Linked DNA regions of Homo sapiens: all the other regions are linked to region 3. The links come from fine-mapping of genetic effects on gene expression. A gene starts in region 3. Each other region holds a variant in brackets. All regions are shown on one strand. Distances are between the middles of the regions.

Evidence for each region. PIP is the estimated chance that this variant, and not a neighbour inherited with it, causes the effect. A credible set is the group of variants that fine-mapping cannot tell apart.
Region 1: its variant is the best candidate, but not a certain one, in a credible set for the expression of OSTF1 in whole blood (GTEx, PIP 0.73).
Region 2: its variant is the best candidate, but not a certain one, in a credible set for the expression of OSTF1 in whole blood (INTERVAL, PIP 0.61).

Annotation. Positions count from the first base shown.
Region 1 is chr9:75,147,461-75,156,625 of GRCh38, forward strand. It overlaps LOC105376090 (a long non-coding RNA gene), which reads left to right and starts at 7,517. Exons shown (of 2, transcript XR_001746731.3): 1 at 7,517-7,556. The variant A/G (reference allele first, on the strand shown) is at 4,478.
Region 2 is chr9:75,125,373-75,135,998 of GRCh38, forward strand. It overlaps OSTF1 (osteoclast stimulating factor 1), which reads left to right. Exons shown (of 10, transcript NM_012383.5): 3 at 2,197-2,247; 4 at 5,206-5,269; 5 at 6,398-6,451; 6 at 7,922-8,029; 7 at 8,974-9,023. Among named protein-coding and RNA genes, the nearest start is that of OSTF1, 42 kb to the left of the region's middle. The variant A/T (reference allele first, on the strand shown) is at 4,652.
Region 3 is chr9:75,083,973-75,093,030 of GRCh38, forward strand. OSTF1 (osteoclast stimulating factor 1) reads left to right here and starts at 4,542. Exons shown (of 10, transcript NM_012383.5): 1 at 4,542-4,754. The coding sequence starts at 4,721. It overlaps NMRK1 (nicotinamide riboside kinase 1), which reads right to left and starts at 4,183. Exons shown (of 9, transcript NM_017881.3): 1 at 4,036-4,183. RefSeq lists silencers at 4,053-4,652, 4,843-4,932.

The DNA of each region.
Region 1 (9,165 bases), 64 kb after region 3:
TTAGAGTGGAGAAACCCAACAACTCATTACAGTTTCGCTAAGATTTGAAAGGTTAAAAAAATTTATTTCCTTATGATAGATGCCATACTTTTCCATATGGAGTAGTCAGGAACCATGAAATTTTTTGCATTCAGTTTTTTTAATAACATTTGTTTTCTCACAGTATGGATCTAGTTCATAATGATTCAGATTCTTTTGCTGAAACACAATTAGCATTGCAGGGAGCCTTCTGTACTACTGACATGACACTTCATTTGGCGTTCTAATTTTGTATCACTACAGTGATGATGTAAAAATGACATGGCCATTGGAATTTGCCTAGAATCCCGGCCCTAGGTCCAAAAGTATATTTTGCAAGATGATTTCAATGCTAATTTCAAAAAACACGTTGATGAAGAGAAGGAAATGTATGAAGAAGGAAGTGGGTTAGCTCAGGAAATGAATAACTGCCTCTATAAGAGTTTATTCTGTGACTGTTTGGTTTTTCACTCTGTGGGAGCCTTGAGAAACGATACCCAGAGAAGCCCATTTGAGGTCTTTCAAACACCCTCAACTAAATTTTAGTAGAAGAGAATCTGTACCACTAGTGACAACAAAGTATGAACACAAATTCTGGCACCAACAAAAGAGGGCATTTTATTCTTAAAATAAATACGTTATTAAATTTGATTTAACCAGTTGTATTTCTTCTTAAACATAAACTTGAAGATATGAAATTCTTCCTGAAATTGTATCTATTCCTATAGATCCTTTAAGATTTTTCTTTAAAATGGGGCTTGTTTCTTAACAAAAAGCTTTTAGAGAACCCTGTAACTTTTTGTTCTTCTATACTTTGGGCTGGGGTAATTAGGATGGATTTCAACTAAAGACTCTTAATTTTTAAAACATGGGCAGAAATAATACAGCTTGTGTGGCTATAGACAATTTTTATCAAAATACCATGTACTTGCTTTAGATATATTATTTGTATATCTGAGGGAAAGAATAGTGGAGGTCTCACTATCATTGTTTTTAACATTATCAAACTTAAGAGAATTTTAGAAAGTTGGACAACTATAGTTTTTTTTTGAAGATGAGGAGAGTGCTTAGCTATGTGCATGAATTTTTGGTAAAACAGGACAACTCATTTAGTTGTGGCTGAAACTCCACTGGAAATTTTTTTGGTTTGTTTCTTGTTTATTCAGCCTGGCTAATCTGAGCTTTCTCAGAGATTGTTTAGTGCTGAACTCAGCAACAAAAATCAGTTCTAGGAATTTGCCACTGCTCTGACTGTGCAGAGGAGAGCTCTGATTATGTTTTGGAAATAACTTCAGAGGTTTTGCTGTAATCTGAGCTTGCTGACAGTCACTGTGGCCTGAACTCCTTTCTAGTGATTGCACCCTTTAAATAGGAAATGCCTTCCAGCTACTTGGGCAGTGCGATACTTGTTTAGTTGTAGGCCCAGGAGCCTCATGCAAAGAAAAATTCTTATCAGAGGTTCCCATTTCAGTTTTCTTTCTGGGCTGTTCTGTTGCACATTTTGTTGTTGTTGGGCTGACATGTATTACAGCATTTCTTTATAAGCCCCCATGGCTCCTCTTTTCAGTAGATTAATTATGTTATTACTCAAAGGGAAATGTTGAACAAAGCAATGGCGACTCCATTTTATTAATCTTAAAAAAAAAAAACTGGAAATAGGCCAGGCACGGTGGCTCACGCCTGTAATCCCAGCACTTTGGGAGGCCGAGGCGGGAGGATCACCTGAGGTCAGGAGTTTGAGACCAGCCTGGCCAACATGGTGAAACCCTGTCTCTACTAGGAAAAAAAAAAAAAAAAAAAAAAACTAGCTGGGCATGGTGGCGGGTGCCTGTAATCCCAACTACTTGGGAGGCTAAGGCAGGAGAATCGCTTGAACCCGGGAGGCGGAGGTTGCAGTGAACGAAGATTGCGCCATTGCACTCCAGCCTGGGCAATGGAGACAGACTCCATCTCAAAAAAAAAAAAAAAAAAAAAAAAAGGAAATAATGCTGAAAACGAAATTTTAGGTAATTTGCAGATAATTTTAAAGATGGAAATGTAATTTTTCCACATAAGCCTTCTTCATAAATGTTTTTTATTGTGTAGAGTTTCTGATTTACTAATTTTCTTATTGTGAGCACTATATTTATCATCTTTGTAAATGATGATTTCTTTTCTGATAGGCTGTGGAACCTAACATTTACATCTGATTATCTGCCTTCCCTATTGACTCAGACTGTGTATTTTTTGTCTTGATTTTTATATTGTAAATATGTATATTGCAGGAAAAGATTGTATAGCCAAACTTTGAAGTGTCCAATTACTAAAAGTTGAGGTTTTAGTGGGAGAAATATTGTAAAAGATTCTGGTATTCCTGTTTGCAAATATAGCTTTGGTGAACAGTTTTCTCATGTGAAGGAAAAATTGCAGACCACAAATTTGTGGCTTCTGTTTCCTTATTTCTCAATAACAAGCTTTTACATCTGCCCCTCCCTTAAAATGACATGAAATTAAATAAAACTACCATTTATGAAATGTCTACTCTTCCAGTGCCTGTGCGAGACATTTTCACAGACATGATGTCATTTGATCTTTGCAGTAACCTTAGGCGAGGAATGTTAATGCCCCAACTTTTTACAGAGACGCTGAGGTTTGAAGAAGTGAAGGAACTGGTTGAAGGTGGACACACGGGTCTGGGGAACCCACGCGCTATTGCCTGCTGCAACAGTCAGATGTCATCATTCACATTCTCTCAGAAAAATCTGCAGAAACAGGACAGCTTCTTTCCAACGGAAGCCCTTGATATAGGCATCTAACAAATTCAGCATATCTGCTAATCAATTCATAATTTATTTAAAATGACCCTAAGCGCTTCCAGAGAAATTTTCACCAAACTTTTAGTTCCCAGTAACCCTAAAGAAATATTTAATGAAGCAGGTTTTACTCCCAAGTTTCCAAAATTTCCTACTCTGTACACATTAGAGTATGAGTAAGTATAAGAGAAGGAAAGCTTAGATCAGCACCTATTCATTTTGCTTTGAGTTTACATTGCTAAGTTCAGCAGTTCTCTCAGAGAGTCTGAGAGCTCCTCACTTCTGTGTAACCATGAAAATAAATGCATCCCTTGGAAGGGTCAGGGGATGTGGTCTTACCTGAGTCTGGGAGCTCGATGTGTACATGGAGGTAAGTAACTTCACAATTCCCAGGCAGTGCTGCTGTGTCTGTCGCCAGTGGCCAGCGGCTTGGGTTTCCCAGCAGGCTCAGCCCTGTGGGCAACTGGGAGCCACAGGGAGGCCAGGTTCCTCGCGGTGCCCGGAAAAGAACACTGAGGAAATCCAAAGGTATACATTAGACAGCCTGACAGGAAGCAGGAAGGAAAGTGGAAGGAATAGACAAGGAGTGAAGAGGCTGAGCCTCAAAGGAAAAATGGTTACCTTTTCTAAATGACCCATAGTTCTGACAGAAATTAGTAGAATGCTTCGAGAAGTGGTGAGGGGTATGGGCTTTGGAATCACACTGTCTGGATTCAAGCCTGATTCTGCTGAGTGACCTGCGACAGGTTACCTAAACACCCAGATTCCCTAGCTGTGCAGTGGAGGAAGTGGTAGTATCTACTGCCTAGAGTTAGAAGGATTAAATAAAATCATATATGCAAATGACTTAGTTCCTGAAAAACTCTACTACTGAGCAGTTGCTCAGTTAATGTTGGGTATAACCATGAACAGGGAAGTCTGCATTAAAACCAGATATGTGTGTTATACAAAGGAGTGTGTCAACACGTTTTTCAGTTTCACCACCAATATTGAAGAGCAGAATTTCCTAAAATACTTTAAAAATGAGTGGAGGACAATGATGTTGCCTTCCAGTCATTTAGGTTTCTTCATATGTGGTAGTAGAGTTTTTCTTTTTCTTCTTCTTTTTTTTTTTTTTTTTTTGAGATGGAGTCTTATTCTGTTGCTAGGCTGGACTGCAGTGATGCGATCTCAGCTCACTGCAACTTCCGCCTCCCAGGTTCAAGCAATTCTCCTGCCTCAGCCTCCCGAGTAGCCAGGACTACAGGTGTGCACCATCACGCCTGGCTAAGTTTTGTATTTTTAGTAGAGACAGGGTTTCACCATGTTAGTCAGGCTGGTCTCGAACTCCTGACCTCAAGTTATCCACCCGCCTTGGCCTCCCAAAGTGCTGGGATTACAGGCGTGAGCCACTGTGCCCGGCCGAGTTTTTCAATATAAATGTACTTTATTTGAGTTACAGAGAAGAGATATATAACTGGAAAAGACCTGGTTATTACTGTTACAGTAATTCAAAGATGAAGTAGGGAGATTGTCTCTGCCACTGTTTCAGTTTTATCCTGTTGCTTTCAAGTGGTTTGATGGGCTTGATAGACCGTGGGTCTGATGTTTGATACATGATGATTTGAAATCAGAAAGGTGTTTGGTGTTACTATCCTGCTCTTACATGACTTCAAAATTCAGACAAT[A/G]CTATTATTCAAATGAATAGACTTTGCACCTTCATAGGTTCCCCTATAAAGTCTAAACTTCAAGAATTTAGTCTCACAGCTTCAATGACAAAAAGAGAATTGAAGACACTTTAAAGTATCATACAATCATATTAACTTTGAACAAGGTGAACAAAAAAGAACTAAATTGCATATTTTGTTATTACCCATTTCAGAAGGTGAATTCCTGAGGCCACAAGAAAATGCTTCATGCCAACAGTGAGTATGAGATGTGGATGTGATGCCTGTTTGGACACAGGTTGGCTTGAAGAGTCACACAAAGCTGGTCATTGACTGAAACTAGAAATGGCTTTGGAGAGATTCATGGCCCTGAAAGCTCTCAGAGAGGGCATGCCACCCTGACAGCAGGGTTCAGGGAAAGCTGGCATGCAGTCCTCTGTCATCCTGAGCCTGTGACATTGACCAGGTCCCTTGGTCCACATGATATGCCCAAAATTAGGATCAGGTGATACCAGCTCCTCCTTGTGTGAAGCAAGTTATCATTGCTGCATCAGTTTCTTAGAGGTCTTCGACCAGGACCTGATTTTTGAGCTTCGGGTCACAGCTTAACCCTCTGTGGTGGTTGTGTCAACTTTCCAGGGTGTGGTACGCCTCATCTGCATCAGAACGCGTGACAAACCCCTGTGCTTAATCTCAGATCTGGGGCTCAGGTGGTTGGTCTCAGGATGAAAGAGCACTTGAGGGCACAGCTGAGTATGTGAGTGTGGTCTGGTGTGGTGGAGGTGTTCACTGGATCTTTAGACCTGCTCTGGGCAATGCTGGGAGTCTTGCTCTTCTATGAGCCATTGCATTTCACAGACTGTTTATGTTTTAGCCACCATATATAGATACTGTATGACGTTTGTGAATGCCTTTCTTCTGTTTTTGAAAATGGGAAATCATGCCTTATCAGCTCTCTCTCTCCCCATTTCTCATTTTTAGTTAGCAATAGTGTCTTGTATACTGCTATGTGAATTCATTAATTATTACCACTACCACTACTATTTATTAATGTATTTATTTTCCTCTGGTGTTGAAACTGAAACTGCTACTGCTAGTTCTAACTACTAAGCAATTATTCCTTGCTAGGAAATCTCAGCAGGAAAACTATAACTGCTCATATGAGAATTGTTCTTCCATATTGTCTTTAAACAGTCCTTAGATGTCCAGTCCAGTGCCTTACACCCATCCCCTTTTTAATAGCTGGAGCCTGAGGCCTGGAAGTGACTTGCTATGAGAAACATAAGTCAGTACAAGAGCTGACCAGCAAGTGAGGAATTGGAAGCAAGGGGTCTGAGATGGTTGCCATGGGTATTTCCTTCTAGATTGTATTACTGCGTGAGACCATTTTCCCACTGTGGGCATGTTTTCCTTGAGTCAATTTTCCAGGTACTCTATATTCAGCACTCTCCTCCTTCCTTTTCTTTAATTCCATTTTAGCCACACACAGGGGAATGGAAAGGGCCTGATTAAATCAACTATTTTTTTTTTTTTAACTTTTATCTTCTGAGGCCAGGCATGGTGGCTCATGCCTGTAATCCTAGGACTTTGGGAGGCCGAGGCGGGCGGATCACCTGAGGTCGGGAGTTGGAGACCAGCCTGACCAACATGGAGAAACCCCGTCTCTACTAAAAATACAAAATTAGCCGGGCATGGTGACATATGCCTGTAATCCCAGCTACTCGGGAGGCCAAGGCAGGAGAATCGCTTGAACCCAGGAGGCGGAGGTTGTGGCGAGCCATGATCGCGCTGTTGCACTCCAGCCTGGGCAACAAGAGCGAAACTCCATCTCAAAAAAAAAACAAAAGACAAAACAAACAAAAAAAAACCTTTTATCTTCTGATTTAATGTGGCAAATATGAGAAGAAATTGAAATGCCAACCAAAATGCCATTGTAGAGTTTATAATCCCATGTTTTTTGGCCGTCCCCTGTTACCTCTCCTAGATAAACAGGAGTTGAATGTCTTGTGTCCTGATTTTTATGGTCTCTTAGTTACTACAATAACAAGATCACTCAATCCCGTGGAGTCTGTCCTATTACAGAATATCAATGTTCACTCTGCTTTTTCTTTATTTCATCTATCAGCAGTGAATAGCACTTTCATGTTTAAGATGCTTCCTTTTAAAGTTGGAGAATAAGAATAAATGTATTGGACGGCTTTGTTTAGTAGCAGCATTGTCCTTTAGATCCACTGAGGAATCTTAAGAATGAAATCATCATAAATAGGCAAATAGGTAATGTTTCAGTAAATACTTGTGGCGACTATGTTTCCTTTTTAACCAAGAGCCCAGTAAAATTTGTAATTACTTCAACTGAATGAGAACACAAGGCCATTTCATGTCCTCAATCTTTGTTGATATGCTTTGCTTATTTTAATGGCTTGCATGCATTTTTTATTGTGCTGTTGATAATAGTTTTACATAATTCATAATGATACACAATAAAAGTTTCATTGCGTTCACATTCCTTTGTGGGTCTCCTCTGTTGCATGTTGATTGTGGTTTAATACTAAAACTGTAACAATGTACATCCAGTACTGTTTCATTTTCCTTGTTACTACAAGCTATGTGATAAACTTACTTTATTCTGTATATGTCATTTTCATTTTTTTCAACATAATTTCTTTATTATGAAAGAAGCCAATACTTAAGAAATTATCATGTATTATTTTCTTATTCTTTATTTTATAAAATCTATGAAAATTCTTTCCTTATTTCCACCTCAATAAGGAGTTTTAAATTGTGATTTGAGGGATTGTTGATTGACTGATTGATTGATTGATTGATTGAGACAGAGTCTCACTCTGTTGCCCAGGCTGGAGTGCAGTGGCATGATCTCGGCTCACTGCAACCTCTGCCTCCTGGGTTCAAGCGATTCTCCTGCCTCAGCCTCCTGAGTAGCTCGGACTATGGGTGCGCACCACCACACCCAGCTAATTTTGTATATTTTTGTTTGTTTGTTTTACAGATATGGGGTTTCACCATGTTGGCCAGGCTGGTCTCGAACTTCTGAGCTCAAGAGATCTGCCAGTCTCCGCCTCCCAAAGTGCTGGGATTACCGGTGTGAGCCACCATGCCCGGTCAAGGGATTGTTTATTATTTGATATTTAAAAAATTATGTCATGCAGTTTCCCATACTTTAAAAAAATTTTAAAGCCACTTTATTGAGATATAATTTGCATGCCATATATTTTATCCATTTAACATATACAATTCAGTGGTTTGCAGTGTATTCACAGAGTTGTATAATCATCATTACTGTCTAATTTTTTTATATTTAATTTTTAATTCTGGAAATGAACACAATGTCAAATTTATATTAACCGTTTTTTAAGAGTAAAGTTCAACTGTTAACTATTCACATTATTATACAACTCTAGGACAATCTCTAATCTCTAAAAGAATCTAGAACAATTTCTAGAACTTAAAATACTTTTAAGTTTGAATAAAGATTCAAACCTCTTGCTGTGGAACAAAAGGCCCAGGTGTAGCCTCTGCTATTCTCCCTCTTAGCAGATTGCTCATGAAAAAGAGTCAAACTCTGTAAAATATTTGAAGGTATTTATTCTGAGCCAAATATGAGTGACCAAGTCCTGAGACACAGTCTTAAGTCCTGAGAACATGTGCCCAGGGTGGATGGGTTATAGCTTGATTTTATATATTTTAGGGAGACAGAAGTTACAAACAGACATCAATCAAATACATGTAAGGTGTACATCGATTCTGCCGGGAAAGGCGGTACAACCTGAGGTGGGAGGGGGGCCCAAGTGTGTATCCAGCTGCCTGGAAGGCCGTGCCAGGTTACATGGCCAGCACCCTAGCTCAGGCTCTTTCCACATTCCTTGTCTTCTGTTTAAGCATGCTTTCTACCTCTAGGCCCTTTTTGTTGCATCACTTCTGCTGTGATTTGAATGTTTGTCCCCTACAAAATTCGTGTTGAAACTTAATCCCCAATGTGACAGTCTTGAAAGATGGGATGTTTAACAAGTGATTGGGTCTTGAGGGCTCTGCCCTCATGAATACATTAATCCATTAATAGGTCAATTAATTATCATGGGAGTCATACTGGTGGCTTCAAAAGAAGAGAAAGACCTGAGCCAGCATGCTAAGCCCCCTTACATGTGATGCCCCATGCCACCTCAGTTCTCTGCAGAGAGTTCCCACCAGCAAGAAGGCTTTCTCCAAATGAGGCCCCTTGAAGCTAGACTTCTTAGGTCCATAACTATTTTATTTTATTTATTTTTGAGACGAAGTTTTGCTCTTCTTGCCCAGGCTGCAGTGCAATGGCGTGATCTCGGCTTGCTGCAACCTCTGCCTCCCAGGCTCAGGCAATTCTCCTGCCTCAGCCTCCCAAGTAGCTGGGATTACAGGTGCATGCCACCACGCCCAGCTAAATTTTTGTGTTTTTAGTAGAGACAGGGTTTTACCATATTGGCCAGGCTGGTCTCGAACTCCTGACCTCAAGTGATCCACCTGCCTCAGCCTCCCAAAGTGCTGGGGTTACAGACGTGAGTCACTGCGCCCGGCCAAATTCCATAACTTTAAAAAACAAATTCCTTTTCTTTGTAAATTACCCAGGTTCAGGTATTCTGTTGTGAGCAACAGAAAACAGACTGAGACACCTTTCTGCACACTATTGACAAGATAATCTTTCTAAATTTTCTCATGGA
Region 2 (10,626 bases), 42 kb after region 3:
TAATAGTGGTCATTGATCGATCATCAGAACATTTTTGAGGCAGGTTTGAGAGAATATTAGTGGTCATTAACTTCTTTTTTCCCAAATTCAAGCAACAAAAAAAGTAAAAACTTATTTCAAATAATATCAAAATGTGTATTACAAGGTCTAGTACATATAACTAATTTTCCATAGTTTGTGCTATGTGTAAGACTAGTCTGTGCAAATCAAAGTGTAAAAGCAATATATATTTCAGAAAGTTACCTTTTAAAGGACTTAGCCATTTGGGGGCATCAATAATCATCATTTGCTAATTTTTATATTTGAATGCATAATGCATCTAAGTATTTTCATGTATTATGGTTGCTTAAAGCATGTTATTGCTGATAATAGCCTTCATTTAGATTCATGGAGAAATAGTTATAATAAGAATGTAGATCAGCTTTAAAACTAAATAAATTGCTAGTGCAGAATCATATTTACTGCTCTAGTCTGCTACTGAGAGGAGGTAAACAAATGGAAAAATGAATGGATGAAATATTTTATTTTTAATTTCATTTTTTAAAAAAATTTTTTGAGACAGAGTCTTGCTCTGTCACTCAGGCTGGAGTGCCATGGCGTAATCTTGGCTCACTGCAACCTCTGCCTCCCAGGTTCAAGTGATTCTCAAGTCTCAGCCTCCCGAATAGCTGGGATTATAAGTGTGCACCACCACACCTGGCACATTTTTTGTGTGTGTTTTTAGTAGAGATGGGGTTTCACCATGTTGGCCAGGCTGGTCTCGAACGCCTGTCCTCAAGTGATCTGCCCGCCTCAGCCTCCCAAAGTGCAGGAATTGCAGGCATGAGCTACCACGCCTGGCTGGATGAAGTAATTTGTTTCACTAGCATAATTTTGATTTATATGGAATAGTAATTATAATCAGAAATATCAAAGCCTTTCTTTTAAAAGTATTTTTCCCACCTGAAATATGAAAGCAACACATGCTCATGACAGAATTTGGAAATTTTTGTGTCTATTTAATGCATAGTTGTGTTCTTATCACATGTGAAATTTGTGTCCTACATTTTTCATCCACCATGATGATGTAAACATTTCCTAACACCTGAAATTTGCTCTCGGTAGGCATCACCCTACTTACTTACAAAGTCATGGTAAGTGTTATCTACTGATGGTCAAAAGATGTTTAAAATGTGTATCTTTATTCAGAAAGTGTTTTTTGGTTGTTTTTGTTTGTTTGTTTGTTTTGTTTTGTTTTTTGAGACGGAGTCTCGCTCTGTCACCCAGGCTGGAGTGCAGTGGCGTGATCTCAGCTCACCGCAACCTCTGCCTCCCGGGTTCAAGAAATTCTCTGCCTCAGCCTCCCGAGTAGCTATGATTACAGGCATCCCCCACCATGCCCAGCTAATTTTTGTATTTTTAGTAGAGATGGGGTTTCACCATCTTGGCCAGGCTGGTCTTGAACTGCTGGCCTTGTGAACCACCTGCCTTGGTCTCCCAAAGTGCTGGGATTACAGGCATGAGCCACCGCACCTGGCCTCAGAAAGTTTTTAGAACATTTGGTTGGTACAGGCCAGAGCACATATGGTCTGTGTAATTAGCCAACTCCTTAGAGCTGCTTGGGGTTTCTGGACTGGCTGAGTTACTGCTTCATATCTTTTAGCTCTTTAGCCTTATTAATGGTTGAATTACATATTAACTTTTCTCATACAGAAAATGTTCATTCTCCCTGAACATGAAGAGCTAGGATAATGATTTTCTTAAAATGAGCAGATAGCAGATGTTGATCTTAAAGTGTTCAAGGATTGAGGCCTTGTTTAAGAGAAAATCAAGCTTCTGGCTGTTTTTCATGACTCTAATTCTAGACATTTATATTTTTATGAAAAAATGTATACCACCTTTTAGAATTTCTACAAGGAAGAAGTTTTATTAATACTCTATTTTGATATACAAATGTCTTGCTTTGGTTGTAGAAGAATGCAAGATGTGTGTGGAGAATCTTTATATATGTAATTCTTTGAAGTTCATCATGGGAAAAAAATCTAGCCGTCTATTCATGTGTTAATTTTTCAGTAGTGTTTTATTATATGGCTTATGTGCTGATTTAAGTGTATAAAACCACATTGCTTATTAGAATATGATAGAATTTTGAATCTATATAATCATATTCTAATTCATGAAAAATCACATGGAGTCAAACTTTTTTTTTTCTTCTAGCCAGATGAATTATACTTTGAGGAAGGTGATATTATCTACATTACTGACATGGTAAGTCCAGATAACATCTTGTAATACCACATATAAAGACTGTTTTATGTAGCTATAACATTGTAAGTTATTTAAATATATATGTACATAGAAATACATATGTACAAGTCTGTTCATTTTAGCACAATTGATAGTAGCATAAGATTGAAAATAGCCCTTATTTCCATCAATAGGGAAAGAGTTGAATAAGCTTTGGTCTAGCCACAAACAGAATATTATGCAGCTGTAGAAAGAAATGGGGAATATCTCTATATGCTATTATGAAGTAATTTAAGTGAAAAAAAAAGCAAAGTGAGAAAATGTAGATAATATATCCTCAGTTTTCTAGGAAAGGGTGAGAGTGTATGTGTACACACACATACATGCAGACACTTGTTTTTCTCAATTTCAGATAAAAAGTTGAAAGATGAGTTGCAAAGTAAAATTTAGTTTTATTCTATGAAGAGTAAAGATCCTTTCTCTAGGTGGAAGGAGAGAAATAGGGTATAATGAACATAGATGGAAGATAGACTTTTTAGAAAATTATACCTTGTTTTGTGGATTTGACTTTGAACTGATGTAAACCTTGACATGGTTAAAAATTGAAGTAAAAAGCAATCCCTAAAAATTAAAAGCAGAATGAATCAAATGAACTTAATTGTACCCTGGTAATTGGCCTAACCACACAGAGAGGAAATATTCCAAGTTTAAAACTCAGCAATTTGACTGAACATCCATAGTAGAATATGGATATGTATGAAAGACATATATATATATATATATATATATATATATATATATATATATATTTTGTCCATATATATATATATTTTGTCCATATATATATATATTTTGTCCATATATATATATATTTTGTCCATATATATATATATATATTTTGTCCATATATATATATATATATTTTGTCCATATATATATATATATATTTTGTCCATATATATATATATATATATATTTTGTCCATATATATATATATATATATATATATTTTGTCCATATATATATATGGACAAAAAGAAATGGCCAAAAAAGGGTAAATTGTTTTAAATCATGCCCTTGTTAGGGAAATGTAGGTATTGCTAATTCTGAGATTGTTGCATGTGTATTGTGGTTTAGAGCAAATGAGTAATTAGGTCGGTGATGTTGCTAACGGATTTTCAGCATAGCAAAAAGGATACACAGATGTAAGATTAATGACAGTTTAAGAAAAACTCTGTATTCCTTCATCTGAATTGCAAGGATCACATTGTATTTTATCTAAAATAAAACAAAAATATTCCCTGCTGTGTTCTTTGAAAGGGCCTAGGAAAAATGACCAACCCAATAATAATATGTTATTTTCCATTGAAATGTACAGGCTTCTTTGAGAAATGGCTGGTACCAAGTCAGGGGCAGCAGAGGTACAAGATAAACCCAGAACATCCTCTTATTAGAAAACATGGAAGCTCCTAAAGACAGTAGGGTCACACTGAAAGGACTTGGGAACGAACTTGAAGAGACTCCCACTGGCCAAAGATAGGACAATTTGAGCATCAATTAGGGCAACAACTTCCAAGAATTGAAACCCATTAAATACATTTAAATTTATGAGTTTCTAATGTTACTTCTGAGGAAATCTCATTGGTCAGCATGAGAGAATGCTAGGAAATCAGGTTTTTATTCTGACAACTGTTAAGGGAAAGAATCACCATTTATTCTGTGTTTTCTTTATGAATTTCTTACCTGGGCAATCTGAGAGCTGATGAGGAAGTTTTTGTTTAAAGAGGTATTCAGGTTATTTCAATGAAGAAGGAATGATAGAATTAGAATGTCACCATCTTGCAGCCTCTAGGAAATAGTGGATCTAGACAATGATCATCAAGGGCTACTAACATTACAAAAAGAAGCCGACTAGATAGTTTGCATTTCCTAATGGAAGAAATCAATACTGCCTAGGAAATAGCCTTGCCAAAAAAAATTGGAGCTGAATCTAATTAAACCTCTAGAACTGATGACCAATTTATAGGCAATACAGGGAACAGAGGAACATGCTTAATGATAACACAGGGATACAACAGGCAAAATCCATAGAGGTTGACACTACAGAACAAACCAACTGGATTCTTCAACAAATACATTGTAAGAGATAAAAAAGAATGGAGAGACAACCTATAGATTAAAAGATACTTAAAGACAAATCAATCATATTGTATAGCCCTTATTTGAGTCCCAAATTATGGGGCAGTTGGGAAATTTGAGTATCGACCTAGATATTTGATGATATTAAGGAATTATTGTTGGAAAAAACTTTTAAGCTGTGATAATGGCATTATAATTGCCTTTCAAAAAGTATGTGTCTTTCAGAGATACGTACTGAAATATTTACAAATGAAATAATATGATGTCTAGAATTTATTTTAAAATA[A/T]TCCAGGAGGGGAGGGACGTCATGGGGGCATATATGAAACAATATTGGTCATTAATAAATGATTTGTGCAGTTGGGAAATGGGTATATATATGGTCATTACATTGTTCTTTCTACTTTTTTGTAAGTTTAAATTTTTCTATAATAACAAGTTACCCCCAAAATGAAGATAATATAAAGAGATCTTTAGAACTTCCTCCCCCATAAAAAAAATTATCTCAAAGCTAAGAGAAATGAAACTGTGGACAAAAAATCATATAGCTAGTCTAAACTAGCGTAATTTGTTTTCTTCTGTTTCATGTCATCTCTTATTTGTTTGGTTGTTGAGACTCTGTCATGAAACGTATTCCATTTGTTGCAGGCAGATGCGTGTTTATTTGTAACTGAGTGGTAAGGGAGACGGACACCCACAGCTAGGGCGTGAGGAAGCTTGATAGTGTGGGTAGGGTTGATGGACATTTTGTAGAACAGGTACTCCCTAGGAGCTAGATAATTTGAAAAGTGAATGAATGCAGTCTGGATTTCATACCACTTAATTTAACTCTTCTTTTACCAGAGCGATACCAATTGGTGGAAAGGCACCTCCAAAGGCAGGACTGGACTAATTCCAAGCAACTATGGTAAGTGTTGCTGAGTGGTTTTACTTTAGCTTCGTTCACTTGGAATTTTTTGGTTCTTGATGCTTTTCTGCTTGCTACTGTGGCTGAGAAAGCAATGGAGTCATTGTCAGTCTAGGACATTTTCTATTCCATGAGCCTTCTGTTAATAAACTGGCCATGAACACCAGATGTGCTTGAGCCTGACTCTGTGGCCTAAGAGAATGCATTTTAGCATTCTTAACCCAAGGTTTCCAAGGAAACACTTATGGTTTTACTTTCTTCAACCCTTAAAACAATTTTTTTTAATGCTGATAAACTCAATCTTGCAGATAGTTTCTTAGACTAGCCGTTTCTTTTGTGATGGAGTAACCCGGCCTTGTTCATTCATGTTTGGGGCAGTGATGTTCATTAAATGCTTATCATGGCAGTTTGGAGACTTTGAGAGATGAGAGACACGGCTCCCGCCATGAAGCTGCTTCAAGCTGGAAGTGGGACAAACAGATAAAACACTTGTTTAGTTGTCAGCAGAATCAAGTCAAAAGAGCACAGAATTGATAAACAAGGCTCCTGAGTTTTAATCCTCTTTCTTCCATTTCCTAATAACACTTCCTACTGATTCTAGGACAGCAGCGAACATGCCTTCTTTAAGAGGCAGGTAGCTATGCTGATTGTTCTTTCTGAATACAGGAAGCAAAATACTCCCCTCATCCGATCCTACATAAATACACACAAGAGAACCAAAATTATTTTCAGGTATCTTTAAAGCAGAGTGATCTACAAAATGTAAAAATGAACATCAAATGCTTCCTTTTGCATTTTTGTGACTTTGTTTATTAAATACTTGAGTAATATCAAGTGTGCATTTAACTCAGGTATGCGGGTTTGTTTGTTTTTGTTTATACTTCCAGTTAATTACTATGTTATTGCCTTATTGCTTGGCTTGGTTTCCCTAAACACATAATTCAGCTTCATTTAATGCAAGAACTATCCATTTGATTTTCTGTTACTTTTTATCCACATTAAGTAAAGGAAACTGTGTTGAATGCCCTGGTACTCCTGAAGCTGGGGGACTGTGGTGAATGAGTGGCTTCAGTAAATCATTTGTGTGGCAATTCCACATTGGGTTAACACTTTTTATTTTCAATCTAGTGGCTGAGCAGGCAGAATCCATTGACAATCCATTGCATGAAGCAGCAAAAAGAGGTAGGTGTGATTCTTTTTGACTGAGGTATGCAGTACAGTAAAAGGCACGGATTTCAATTAGCTTTGACAAGTGCATACACCCACGTAACCAACACCCAGATCAAGATCTAGAACATTTCTGCCATCCTAGAAAGTTCCCTTTGCACCTTCTCAGTTAAATCCCTGCCTTACAGTCTGTCCCAACATCTACTACCCTAGAGAAGTGTGATTTTAGTTTTAAAATGTCAGTCAAGAAACACTGTTGTGGGGAGATGCAAGTCGAAAGACATGGTCTGTGACTTCCAAAGCACAACATCTGGCAGGGGAGAGAGAGATGTAACAGATCATTAAAATATGGTATGATAAGTACAGCAATTGAAATGTGTTTGACAGGCCGTAGAGGCCCAGGTGAGTAACTGGAGGGCAAGAGAATGGAAGGGTCTGGTGGGTACAGCATTTAGGAGAGCGTTGGTGTGGTGAGCATTTGGCCAGGGAGGGCATGACTAACAGGGATGAACCTGGGGAAGATCCTTGACCAAACAACGATCAGCCTTGTCTTGGGCTTTATTCTGTAGATCAGTAGTCCTCAGCTAGGGGTGATTCCTCTTTCACAAACCCCGAGGGTATTTGGCAATATCTGGAGACATGTTGACTGTCATGACTGGAGGGATGTTACTGGCATCTTTTGGGGAGAGGCAGGCGTTGTTGCCACACATCCTACAGCACACAGGAGCACCCCCACAATAAATCCAACCCCAAATGCCAATGGGGCTGCTGCTGAGAAACCCTGCTGTAGATAATGGGGAGTTTTTGTAAAGCCTCAATGAGCTCCATTTCATTCCATTTTTAGATTTTTTTGGAAATCTGAATGTACACAAGGAAATTATTGGTTAGGATTGTGAAAAAGTAAAAGGACTAAACTGACATTTAAAAAATTCTTTGTGAATTAGATACTTGGGACATTAGCCTGAGGATTTTAAATTAATAGTTATAGTTTAGCATATAAGAGCAGCAGCTTTGAGTAGGTTATTTAGCCTTTCTTATAGGAACTGAAGATGCATTTTAAATATGAATATGAATAGTATCTGCTTGTTCTTAGGTTTGATTGTTTTTTCCTCAATTTCCAGAATTTCACAAAGAAAAAAATAATATATACACATACACACACATACACACACACACACACACACACACACACACACACACACACCCCTATATATTTTTTAACAGAATAGAAATACCTTAAGTATACCCATTTGGGCAACTATTCCCATTAACTTATCATTAGAAACATTGATGTTAATACTTTCCATTAATAAGCTGGAAGTCAAAATGTACCATAATAAATGCATTAATGGGGAGGTCTTAATTTAATACTTGCTGATTAATCCATTGCAAATGGAAATTTATGCAGAATGACATTGATTTAAAAGCAAAATAAAAAGTGAAAGCTTTTTTTCTTGTGTTCTTGTAAATGTAAAATTCTTTCAGGCAACTTGAGCTGGTTGAGAGAGTGTTTGGACAACAGAGTGGGTGTTAATGGCTTAGACAAAGCTGGAAGCACTGCCTTATACTGGGCTTGCCACGGGGGCCACAAAGGTATTACATTTTGTTTGTTATATGTTTCTATGCTGCTGAAAATGTGTTTCACCTACGGGAGCCAGATTTACAAAAAATGAGAAAGGAAAAGCATTGGCTATTCTTTTTGAATCCTTTAGAATACCGGCCAAAACCCTTGTTCCTGGAAGCTCTGTAGAACAGTGGGTAGAATGTGGTCAGTCAGCCTCACTGCATGGGTCCCTCTCGCTTGAAAGACTGGACACTTCCTTTCCTCTCTCAGGCTTAGAAAGGTTACTGGAAAACAGCAGTAATATAAAAACAAAACCACTGTCTAATCTTACAGAAGGAAAGATCAGAATTTGCTCCTCTAGCTTAGCTTTTCACAAGGTCTTCTTTTATGATTTGCATTTTAAGTTTAATGCAAACTATTAGATTCAAGAGAAAGCCAACATTTGCCAAAGTTAGTGATTCCATTGATACTTTTTCTGTTGTAATCAATAATAATGACAAATTGAATTTTTAGATGTATTTCTTCCTGGACAAAAATTTATCACCCACCGCTTTTCTACCTCTCTCTATAACAAAAGAAATAAACTCAACAACAATAAGAAATGAAGATCTCAACAAATTAAATAGCAGTGCCAAAGGAAAATTTGTAACTGTCTACTAAAAAGAAGCCTATCTTATTTCAGCTAATAAACATGTTAGTTATATGAATGAAAAGTATTATAGTGAATGTAAAAATATTCCTCTAAGTGTCATATGAAAATGCAAAAGCCAAAACTATTAGAAAAAGTATATTTTCCTAAATAATTCCACTTTTTAGATTCTTAAGTTTTTCTATTTTATAAATTTTACAAAATGTGTTAACATTTTCTTGAAGGTTCTTCTGAAGAATCTCTCTTTTATAAAATTATTGTACCTAGATTTGTCAGGCTTCTAATTTTCGTTCTTAAAAGGTATCTTTTCTCTTTGAATTTCAGATATAGTGGAAATGCTATTTACTCAACCAAATATTGAACTGAACCAGCAGGTAAGACTGCTTATTTGAAAATTATTTAACACATACCTGCTTGTTGTCTTTAGTACAGAGCAACTCATGGGCATGTGAAGTATTGTAGTCAAAATCCCACAAGCACATAATTTAAAAATTATAATTGTACTAAAATTCAAATTATCCACAGCCCCAAGTGCCAAACCCACTCCTCCTCATATGTCACTTTCAGCTTTTAGCTCTTTCTTCCTGTACTTACCTTTGTGTTACTAAGGAATAGGCTGACGGAGCTATCTCGCCATGCATTGTCTTCATGTGTACTTTGGCCTCCTGTTGGGTATGTGAAGGGTTAAGCTTGTCAGCTGCCCCAGCTCTCATCTTTCAGCACCCCAGCACCAAGCCTGTTCTCCTCTGCTCCTCAGTGTACTTCATCACAGTTTTTGGTTATATTACTATATAATATTTACTTTATTATGGGTGTCTAAATAGTGTTCACTGCTTATATAACCTTTTTTTGTTTCTGTACTTACTTTTTAAAACTCATTTTTTGTTATCTCACTGTGACTTCTCTACTGTTTTATACAGTCTTGATATATAATACTTTTCCAAAATGTGTAAGATAATCAACAGCTTTCTTTTTTCTCCCTGGATTCATTACTTCCTGAAGCTCTCCATCATTCTCCAGTCTGAGCAGCTTGGTCCCTGTGGCCCTTTGCTGTCCTCCAGGGAACCCCTTCCGTTCTCTGCCATGTTGCATCTTCATTTTTCTGGATCCCTTGTCTTTCTTTTGTCAGAGAACATCTTCAAGTAGATTCCTGAGAAAGAGAAGCTTGGGATTGATTATATGGCTGATCAGAATTCTAGGTCAAAAACAGTTTCCCTTAGAATTTTGAAGGCATGGCTCTGTGGCATTCTTGTTTCCAGGGTTGCTTTTGAGAGATTTGGTGCCATTTTGATTCCCATTCTTTTATGTATGATCTGCTTTTTCTCTTGCTAAGAGTATTTACTTTATTGTTGGTGTTTTCAAATTTTATGATGATGTGCTAGCATTCATCTCTTCCCAATGATTATGATGAACTCTTTCAGCCTGGAAAATTATCTTGTATTTCTTTTAGAATTTTTATCTGACCCTTCTTTGTTCTTTTGGTTCTGGAATGCCCATTAGTAGGATGTTGGACTTCTTGGATTGAACCTTCAGTTTTCTTAATTTTTCCCAGAGATATTCTCACCTTTGTTTTATTTTGGTTATCTTTTTAATTCCCCAGAGTTCTGTATTAGTTTTCTATTGCTGCCTAGCAAACGACCACAGGCTTAGCAGCTTATACTTTCTGTACGTCAGAATTCTGGGCATGGCATAGCTGCGTTCTCTGCTCAGGGTCTCCCAGGTGGAAATCAAGGGATTGGCTGGAGCTGGATTCTCATCTGGAGCTTGGGGTCTTCTTCCAAGTGCATTTAGGTTGTAGGAAGAATTGATTTTCTTCTAACTGTAGTATTACTGAGGCCCTCAGCTTTTAGAGGCCACCCCTCTCTGTAGACAGCTCACAGTATGGCTGTTTGCTTTCTTCCTCAAGGCCAGAAGGAGATTGTCTCTCTGCTGTTTCATTGTTTTTATTTTTTAGGGGCCCACCTGGTTAGGTCAGGC
Region 3 (9,058 bases):
TTTCTACATGAAACTGCAAATGTTCAGGCAGAGGGCCAAGTTAAGCCACCGGCCACTGTTTTGTGGATTTTTGGTTTAGGGGATGGAGGGCAGTTTCATACATGCCTCCCTAACGTTCACTAAAGTAGTCCTTGGTTATTACAATGGGCCATTTTTCTCACTAAGTGAAAAGGTGAAGCACAGCTGGAGGGAATCTTAGAATAGTGGCTCCTGAAGGTCATCCCTGAAGGCCACTCTTCTTCCTTCCTATCTGCTCAGGGGGGTTGCCAGGGACCTAGGCCGTGTAGCCAGGGGCAAGCGGCTGCCTGCCAAGCTGGAGGCTCCCAGCAATGCTCCAGTTTCTATGATCTGTGTCCACACTCTCCCTGGGGAGGGGTTATGCAGAAAAAAGCCTGGTGGGAAGAGGGCTATTGTTGTCTGACTTCTTGGCTTATCTAAATATCCCACATTGAGTACAATTGCTTAAGACTGGGGTCCACTTCCATTAACAAGTCTATGTGAGACAAGAATCAATAATGACTGTGATAAAATAGCAGCAGGGCACTGTGGCTCATGCCTATAATCCCAGCACTTTGGGAGGCCAAGGCAGGCGGATTGCTTGAGCTCAGGAGGTTGAGACCAGCCTGGGCAACATGGCAAAACGCTACCTCTACCAAAAATACAAAAGATTATCCAGGCATGGTGGCATGCTCCTGTAGTCCCAGCTACTTCGGAGGCTGAGGTGGGAGGATTGCTTGAGCCTACAAGGTGGGGGTAGCAGTGAGTGGAGATTGAGCCGCTGCACTCCAGCCTGGGTGGCAGAGTGAGGCCCTGTCTTAAAAAATAAAATAAAATAGCAGACAAGTTGCATATTTAAGTTTCATCCAGAGTTATGTTGTTGAATACACATCTCCATCCAAATTTACAAGATGTATCGAGGGAATGACTGCATACAATGAATATTGTAAAATACATTTTTATGTTGTAATTTTTCTGCTTTTGAATTTTATTTTACCCTATTCTTATTTTTTTGGTATGTCGGTTCAATGCTGCCAATTAGCCTTTTTTTGGGAAGGGAGAGGCTGCTCTTTATCTCACTTTTGTGGTGATAAATGTTCTTTCTCTTACAAAACTATGTTGTCAGAAGATGTTAGTAGAGTGATATCCTCACTTTACCAAATAAAATAAAAATTCATAAAACCTTGTCATTCCTTGCCCCCATTATTTTTGGATAGCTCGCTGAAGCATAAATTCTCAAACTTGGAGAAGTATAGCTTTAGCGATTACTTGGTCTACCCCTTCATTTTGCATAAGTGGAAACTGGCTCAGACAATAGAGCAATTTGCCTAAGGTCACACAGACAGTAAGTGGAAAAGCCAGATATTAAACTAAACCAATTGAGCTGACTTCTTTCTATCACTCCAAGCTGCTAAAAAGCACTTTATTACTAACAGCAAAGAAAGGGTGTTAGGTATGTGCTAGCTTAATTGTCAGGCTCTGATGTATAATTGATGTCATTCTTACTGATGTATTATTGATGGGGCATCTATTTGCTGTGCACACAGAATGGAAAGGACTACTGGTCCCCGTCCTAAACTGCCACATCTGTGGTTACACGTGTGACCATTGCATCAATTACATGGCATGTAAATAACAAGTGAGCATGGTTGTGGCATGGGAAATAGGCTTGAGGGGGTTACTTGCATTCAGGAACCAGGAGTAAGATGGCATAAAAAACCTACTTATAAAATCTCTCAGATACAGTCAAATGTAAGTTTTTTTTTTTTTTTTTTTTTTTTTTTAACCAAAACAGGAACTCCCAGTTCTACATTAGTTAGCAGTCTGGGCCTGTCCAAGCCAGTGTTTGGGTAAATGCTGGGCATACCCTATCAGCTATGAGCAAGTGACAATGTGATGGGAAGGGTGGGTAACTGGAACATGCAGAGACAAGAGAGGCAACTGGGCTAAGTGACTAGGGCGGGGTGGGGGGTGGGCCTAGCAATCCCTGAAGGCATTTATTTCAAAAACAGTGTGGATGCACAGGGCAGCTTTAGGGGAGCTCCAAGTTCAGGCCTGGCACTGTCCACCTCCACATCACATTCTACTATTTCATTGCCTGTTGCCCCTATAAAAAAAATCACCAAGGCTGCAGTGAGCCATGACTGTGCCACTGCATTGCAGCCTTGGTGACACAGCGAGACCCTATCTTGAAAAAAACCAAAACAAACAGGCAAAAAACAACCCAAAAACTGCCTCCCATAAAACCAAAAACAAAACAAAAAATCAAATTTAAAAAGCTCGCAATTGAGTTGCCAGGCTTCATGAAGCAAATGCAAGCTTCGTACAAACTGTAAATCATGTGATGTGTCCAAAGAGTCATCATTTCAGGGCACGTCTATCACTAGAATCCACACCACCTTCAATCTCATGGAATATCTGTGTAGTTTATTTTCCCAGTGCGTGCAAGGCTTTCCTCAACAGCGGAGAGCTTTTGCATAGCAGGAGAACAAACTAGGATAGCCAAGAGCAAACCTGAAATGACTAATTTTATTTTTTACACTTTTTTTTAACCCTAAGTAAAATGTTGGGTTTTTTAAAATAATTCAGGTGTGTTTATTATGCTTAATTCATTTCACTACTAAACACTTGCCTTTTGGATTCTAAACTGCAGAATGGTCAGAAGTGGCATGTGCAGAATCAGCAGATTGTACGAACTCTCTAACGCAGCTCTCTAACGCAAATGATCTGAAAGACAGCTGACAAAGCTAAATGTGCTCTTCAAATGTATCTACAGGACAGTCTGATATTTTAAAAAGAGAAAAATGTTTCCAGGACTTCTTACTCTGTATTCTATCCAACAGCTATTTTGATTCTCTTCTTCCAGGAGATAGGGCAGTCTTTTCCTACTATTGTTTAAACTTTGCTCCCTTTTGGTAAACAAATCCCTCAAGGCTGGGTTTTTTTTTTTTTTTTAAGACAGAGTCTCGCTCTGTTGCCAGGCTGGAGTGCAGTGGCGCAATCTCGGCTTACTGCAACCTCCGCCTTCTGGGTTCAAGTGATTCTCCTGCCCCAGCCTCCCGAGTAGCTGGGACTACAGGCGTCTGCCACCACGCCCGGCTAATTTTTTGCAGTTTTAGTAGAGATCGGGTTTCACCAGGTTGGCCAAGATGGTCTTGATCTCTTGACCTCGTGATCCACCCGCCTTGCCCTCCCAAAGTGCTGGGATTACAGACGTGAAGGGCTGGGGTTTTTGAAAACGCAATTCATGCCCCTCCCCCATTGGTTTCATTTATGTAGGTTCTTAGGTAAACAGTTTTTTCTTTCCCCAAATATACAATTAATTTACAATATTGACTGTTATTTTGAACTTATGCCATTGGCTTCCTTGTGTGCTCCAGTTCTTTCCTCCCACCGAAGATTCAATCCGATAGATCAGGGGTAGGAAAACTTTTTCTGTAAAGTGCCAGACAGGAAATGCTTTGGGCTTTGCCAGCTGCTACTCAACCCTGCTGGGTAATGCGAAAGCGGCCACAGAAAACACAGATGCAAATGAGCGTGACCGTGTTCCAGTAAAATTTTACGGACACTGAAATCGTAATTTCATGTAATTTTCACGTGTCACAAAGTATTATATTTCTTTTTATTTCTTTTCAGTCATTAAAAAAAGTAAAAAAAAAAAAAATTCTTAGCAGGCCTTACAGTAACAGGCAGCAGGCGGGCAGTAGGTCATCACCCCAACGCTAGAGGAATGAGACCATATCGATCCGCGAGGATCAAGTCCTGATCCTGTCCCTGGCGACTTCTCCAGGCTGCGCGGTCTCTTGGAGGCAGCGTTCCCATTTTCAGGATTATTCCGGGGCGCTAGAGCACCACGCCACCATGAGTACACGTCCTCCTCGGCAGGCCACCTATCAGCTCTGTGAGGGTGGCAAGAGTCCAGGCAAGGCTTTCAGGGCGCAACCAAGTCCCGGGCTCCAGCACAGAAACCCTCTGGAAACACCTCCAGGCCCCAGCAAGGCGGCGCGGCGCGGCAGGGGCGAGCAGGTACGCACTCACCTGGCGCCAGTTCGAGTCCTCCCAAACACAGCGGCAGAGGCGACAGCCAAGCGCGCGCCTGTACCCAGTGCGCCGCTACCCGCAGCTCGCTCCCCGAGAGGCCCACAGCCCCTTTCCCCACGCTCCTCCTGGGTTAGAGGGATGCCAGGTAGGGGCGGTCACCAGAGGCCCCTTTTCTCTACTCTCGGCGCCGGGTTCCAGCCCCCGTTGGGGCGGGGCGGGGCGGGGCGGGGCTCCGGCTAGCTTGGCCTCTTCCGCGCGCCCCTGCGCAGCTCCGGCCCTTCCCTATCGGGAGCGCGCGCGGCCCGCGGCACTGCACTGGCGCACGCCCGCTTCGCCCTCGCTCGGCTCCGGCTGGTTCCGCCGCCGTGCGCGCCGCCCGCGCTCCTGCTGCGGCGAAGCTGCCAGCCCGGGAGCCAATTAGCGCTCGGCTAGGCGGGGTCCACTTCCTCGTCGGCCCGGCGCGCGCTCTGGACTGCTCCGGCGGCCGCGGGGCGGGGCGGAGCACTCGGCGGAGCCGCTCTGCCTGCGTCCGCTCTTCCCGCAGCCAAGGGTGGGCGCCGGTCCTAGGAGGCGCACGGTTGTAAGCCAGACAAAAAGAACTGGGGTGCCCGGAGTGCCAGGTGGCGGGCAAGCGGTGGGCTTTTCGGCGGGGTCTTTAGGATTTGCAGCTCCAGGAAGCGAGATGTCGAAGCCGCCACCCAAACCAGTCAAACCAGGTGAGGGAGGTAAGGTAGGCGCTTGCCAGGTCCTGCGACCGCCGCGGTGCCGGCGCCTCCTCTGCAGCTTGGCAGGGAGGACCCGGCGCGCACCCGGCCCCGAGCCTGGCTTCCGAGATCGGCCCCACCGGGATGGGCGCTCTTAGTTTTGCGTTCGCTGTTACGGAGGAGGGATCGATTTTGATAGCAAGAGGATTTCGAGGATTAATATATATATATATATTTAAAGGGGAGTAGCCCTCACTTTTGCTACGTTGTCATTCGCTGAAACTTTCAGAGGGTGTGATGGCAACGTCCCATGGAAGTTTTCCGGAAAGACAGGGCCATTGATCTCCCTTTAAAAAATGTCATGAAATGATCTTTAGCCACTTCCTCTTTTCTCAGTGTTTGTCACTGTCAAGTTAGGGTTCCTGACCGGCCAGAGCGAACGGGAAGTGCAATCCCTGCAGGGTGGGGTGGGCGAGCGAGCCTCCCTCGGGACTTAAGCGTGGAGCAGCGTTTGAAATTGACCTCGGGATCTTGGGAAGAGCGTTTAGAAAAAAACCCTATACTCGCGCTCCTGGTGGAAAGAATCTAGGATGCGGCAGTGATCTCAGCTGTTGCTATTTGGAAGTGTCATTTTATCATCTCCTTTGCCTTTGCTCTCCCAAAGACGTTGGCGTGCTAAACCTGAGAGGGCTGAGATTACTAAATTCCTCAAAGCAGTTTTCTGGGCGGATTGTCCTTGTTCATTTTTGCTCTGTTCTTAGAATATTTTCTGTGATATGCAGAAATAAGATAATTGTAAAAGAAACTGACGTATTTTAATTAAAAGTTGTAACATACTGTTCCGCTCATTCATTTGGGTAGGTAATTAGAAAGGACTGACGTATTTCAATACTTTAACAACTCTTACGTGCATTCATTTGGGTAGGTAATTAAGGGAAATACAGGAAATGGAAGATAAATGGCTCCGATGTATTCTTGGGTTTTTTCTTCCCATAGTGTAATTTCGGTATAGCGAAATGCTGAAATTTAATCCATTTACGTCAAATTTTGAAGTAACTTTCTTTGCAAGAGATGAGTTTCAGTGATTACTTTTTTCCTTGATTTTCCTAAACTCTATAGCTTTCATACTTATCTAGTTTTGTTTCTTTGCGTTCCTGCAGTTGGAGTATGAAGTCCCTTTATTTGATAATCATGTACGTACGTATGTGGAATAGTGCTTCACTGAGGACTGACATCTTGGTGGGCTGAGTGTGAAGGAAGTTGCTGAGACTGGCTCTGCCCTGGGCAAAGATGGGGCACAGCTAGAGTTGGGTTCTGCATTGCATTAGATGTGGAATCTGATGAGAAATTTCCATTTTAAGTGCATATGTATGAGGTAGCTTTCTAAACTCAGGTGCAAATCAGGACCTTAAGTATCTAACAGTGCAGAGTTGTTCTTTGATAGCTAAACAATATTTTATTTATCTTATTTTTTTCTGATCACCTGCTGCCAGTTGAAATACGTTAAAGAATGCCCTTTTTAAAAATCTCTTCATGCGTATTAAATGCTGTCTATATTGCAAATGGAGGGACATTGACAGGTGTGTGTGTGTGTGTGTGTGTGTGTGTGTGTGTGTACACAGTAATGTATACATGTGGGTTCATTCACACTTGGGGGTTTAAGGGTCATCCTGTTACTAATTGTGGATACATTCCCAGGAACCTCCTTTCTCCTTCACATCAGAAAGCTTATGGTTAAACATGACAGGTGTTTAGAGGGAACTTTGCATTTTATTTTATTTTAATTTGTTTTATCTGGTCCTTGATTCAGGATAAAGGGAATTTTGAATCAACATTAATTTACAAATGAGATCCAGACACAAAGTTACCATAGAAATGGGTTTGCCAGTTTAGTAATTTACAGTGAGAAACATTACTGCCAATCAGAGTTGAAACTTTGTGTGGGCTAGCTTAGTTGAAGAAAAAAAAAAAGCGATGGCCAGGAGCAGTGGGCCATGCCTGTAATCCTAGCACTTTATGAGGCTGAGGTGGGAGGATTGCTTGAGGCTAGGAGTTTGAGACTAGCCTGGGCAACATAGCAAGACCCCGTCTCAACAGAGTACAAAAAACAAAAACAGAAATGTCCTATCGTAGTACTGTCCCACATTTACTGTGTGTTAGGCAATGGTATAGTCACTTTACACGTGTTAACACATTTGCTGCTCTCAACAATCTTATGAGATCAGTACCATTATATTGTTCCTGTTGCACAGATGGGGAAATAAAGATGCGCAGAAATGTTATTTAACTTGTCTAAAGTCAACAGTTAGAGTGGGGGATGTAGCAGGCAGTATTAAAACCCAGGTAGTCTGGCTTTGAAGTCTGCACTTTTTTTTTTTTTTTTTTTTTTGAGACAGACTCTCGCTCTGTTGCCCAGGCTGGAGTGCAGTGGCGCGATCTCGGCTCACTGCAACCTCCGCCTCTCGGGATCAAGCAATTCTCTGCCTCAGCCTCCCGAGCAGCTGGGATTACAGGCAGCCCGCCACCATGCCCGGCTAATTTTTTTTTTGTATTTTTAGTAGAGACAGGATCCAGGCTGGTCTTGAACTCCTGACCTTGTGATCCACCCTCCTTCGCTTCCCAAAGTGTGGGATCACTGTGCCTGGCCAAAGTCTGCACTCTTAACCATTTGCTATTCTGCCTTAAGTCATAGTGCTCCATTCACACTGGCGGTCAAATGTGTATTTTAGAGCTGGTGGTCAGGAAGTCGAAAGGGAGGGGCCTCTGGTCTACAGACTTTCTTGTCACAAATGCACATAAAGGTCAGCCCCTGGTTGACAGCAAGGAGAGTGGTGTGGAGCTTTACTTTCTTGTCCTGCAGGCAAGCTGCATGGATAAAAATCTCCAAAGACAGCATGGGATTGGGGGCTTTGGGGTTGTATTTAATTTTTTGGTTTGTTTAAACCTTGCCTCATTCCAAAAGGACTTCTAAAAATACACATGATCTGAGAGAGAGGAAAAAGTAAAGATAAAGCATGGTCATCTAGAGGAAGGGAAGAATAGTAAGATGAAACAAGAGGAAAAGCTAGCTTACAGACAGACCTGCATGTGTAGTAAGGTCACTGTAGATTTGGCTCTCAGCTGCAAGCAGAGAGAAAAATCTCAAGATTCATAGTGCTCATAAAATTAAAATGTGTCACTTACTCTGAAAAGTAGTTATTTTAATGGCATTGAGATCTGAGACAGATTTTCCTGTGGGTTCTCTTAAAGTATTGGAGTGGCCTGGATATCTCTAGCAGAAATACAAGACAGAACATCCTAGCCATGTTTCTTACAGCTTCTTTCAGAGCAAGATTTGGGCAAAACAGCATGGCTCAATTCAGTAGACAATACTAAAAGGAAAGGAGCTAGGTGAGTAAGGACAAAGGACTTGCTGGAAGATATTAAAAACAAGGGACATTAAGCTATAATGCAGGCTAATAGCATCTTTCTGGCTGATCAGCACATCCCCAACAGGGGGCCGATTTGTGGAAGGAGGCTGCCCAGGGAAGTCCCGGGCAGATGCTAGTGGGAGACCCTGGCCATTTTTGTACCATCTGGAGGATAGATCAGGGTTACCTTGTTTGGGTTTTTGGCCATATCCAGAATTCATTTGCTAAACAAATGTTTCTTAATAAATGTAGCTCATATATTAGGCCCTGTGCTAGACACTGGGGTTCCCAGGAACAATAATCTATGGTGTCATTCACGAGGGTCCTGAGTCTAATGGGGAAGACGTATGTATCTACAGATATTACCTAGAGTATCCCATATTTACAAGTGGATGGCTGATCTCATTCATTTTGTTTTTTTTAAAAAAGCTTGTAAGTAAAAATATAATTTTTTTATTTTTAGAAAATTTAGAAAAAGGTAAACAATAAATATATAACTAAAATATAGGAATCATCCCTGTCATCTACTGATAATCACTATTTACATTTGGTTGAATATTCTTTCAGGTTTCTTTCTTCTTCACATCCATTTCATTTCAAAAAAGAAAATAAAAACAATTACCCTCAGAACAGCGTCTCAGCTTCCGTTTGAAAAGTCTTGCTGTTGGTTGGCATATGTTTCCAAAAGGCTATACGGTATTGCCTGCATTCTGCTTGAAAAATCAATTCTGTCGCAGTTTGACCTTTCCTTGCTTACTGATTTTGTTTCTGTAGAATCACTTTTGGCCACACAAGGTCTGTCATTGAAACTTTCTCCCTTAACTGTTATCTGTGCCACCATGGTACTCTACTAAGATGTGTTGCAATTTCGTGGTCTTCAGCTCATTCTTTATGATACCCTCTTTC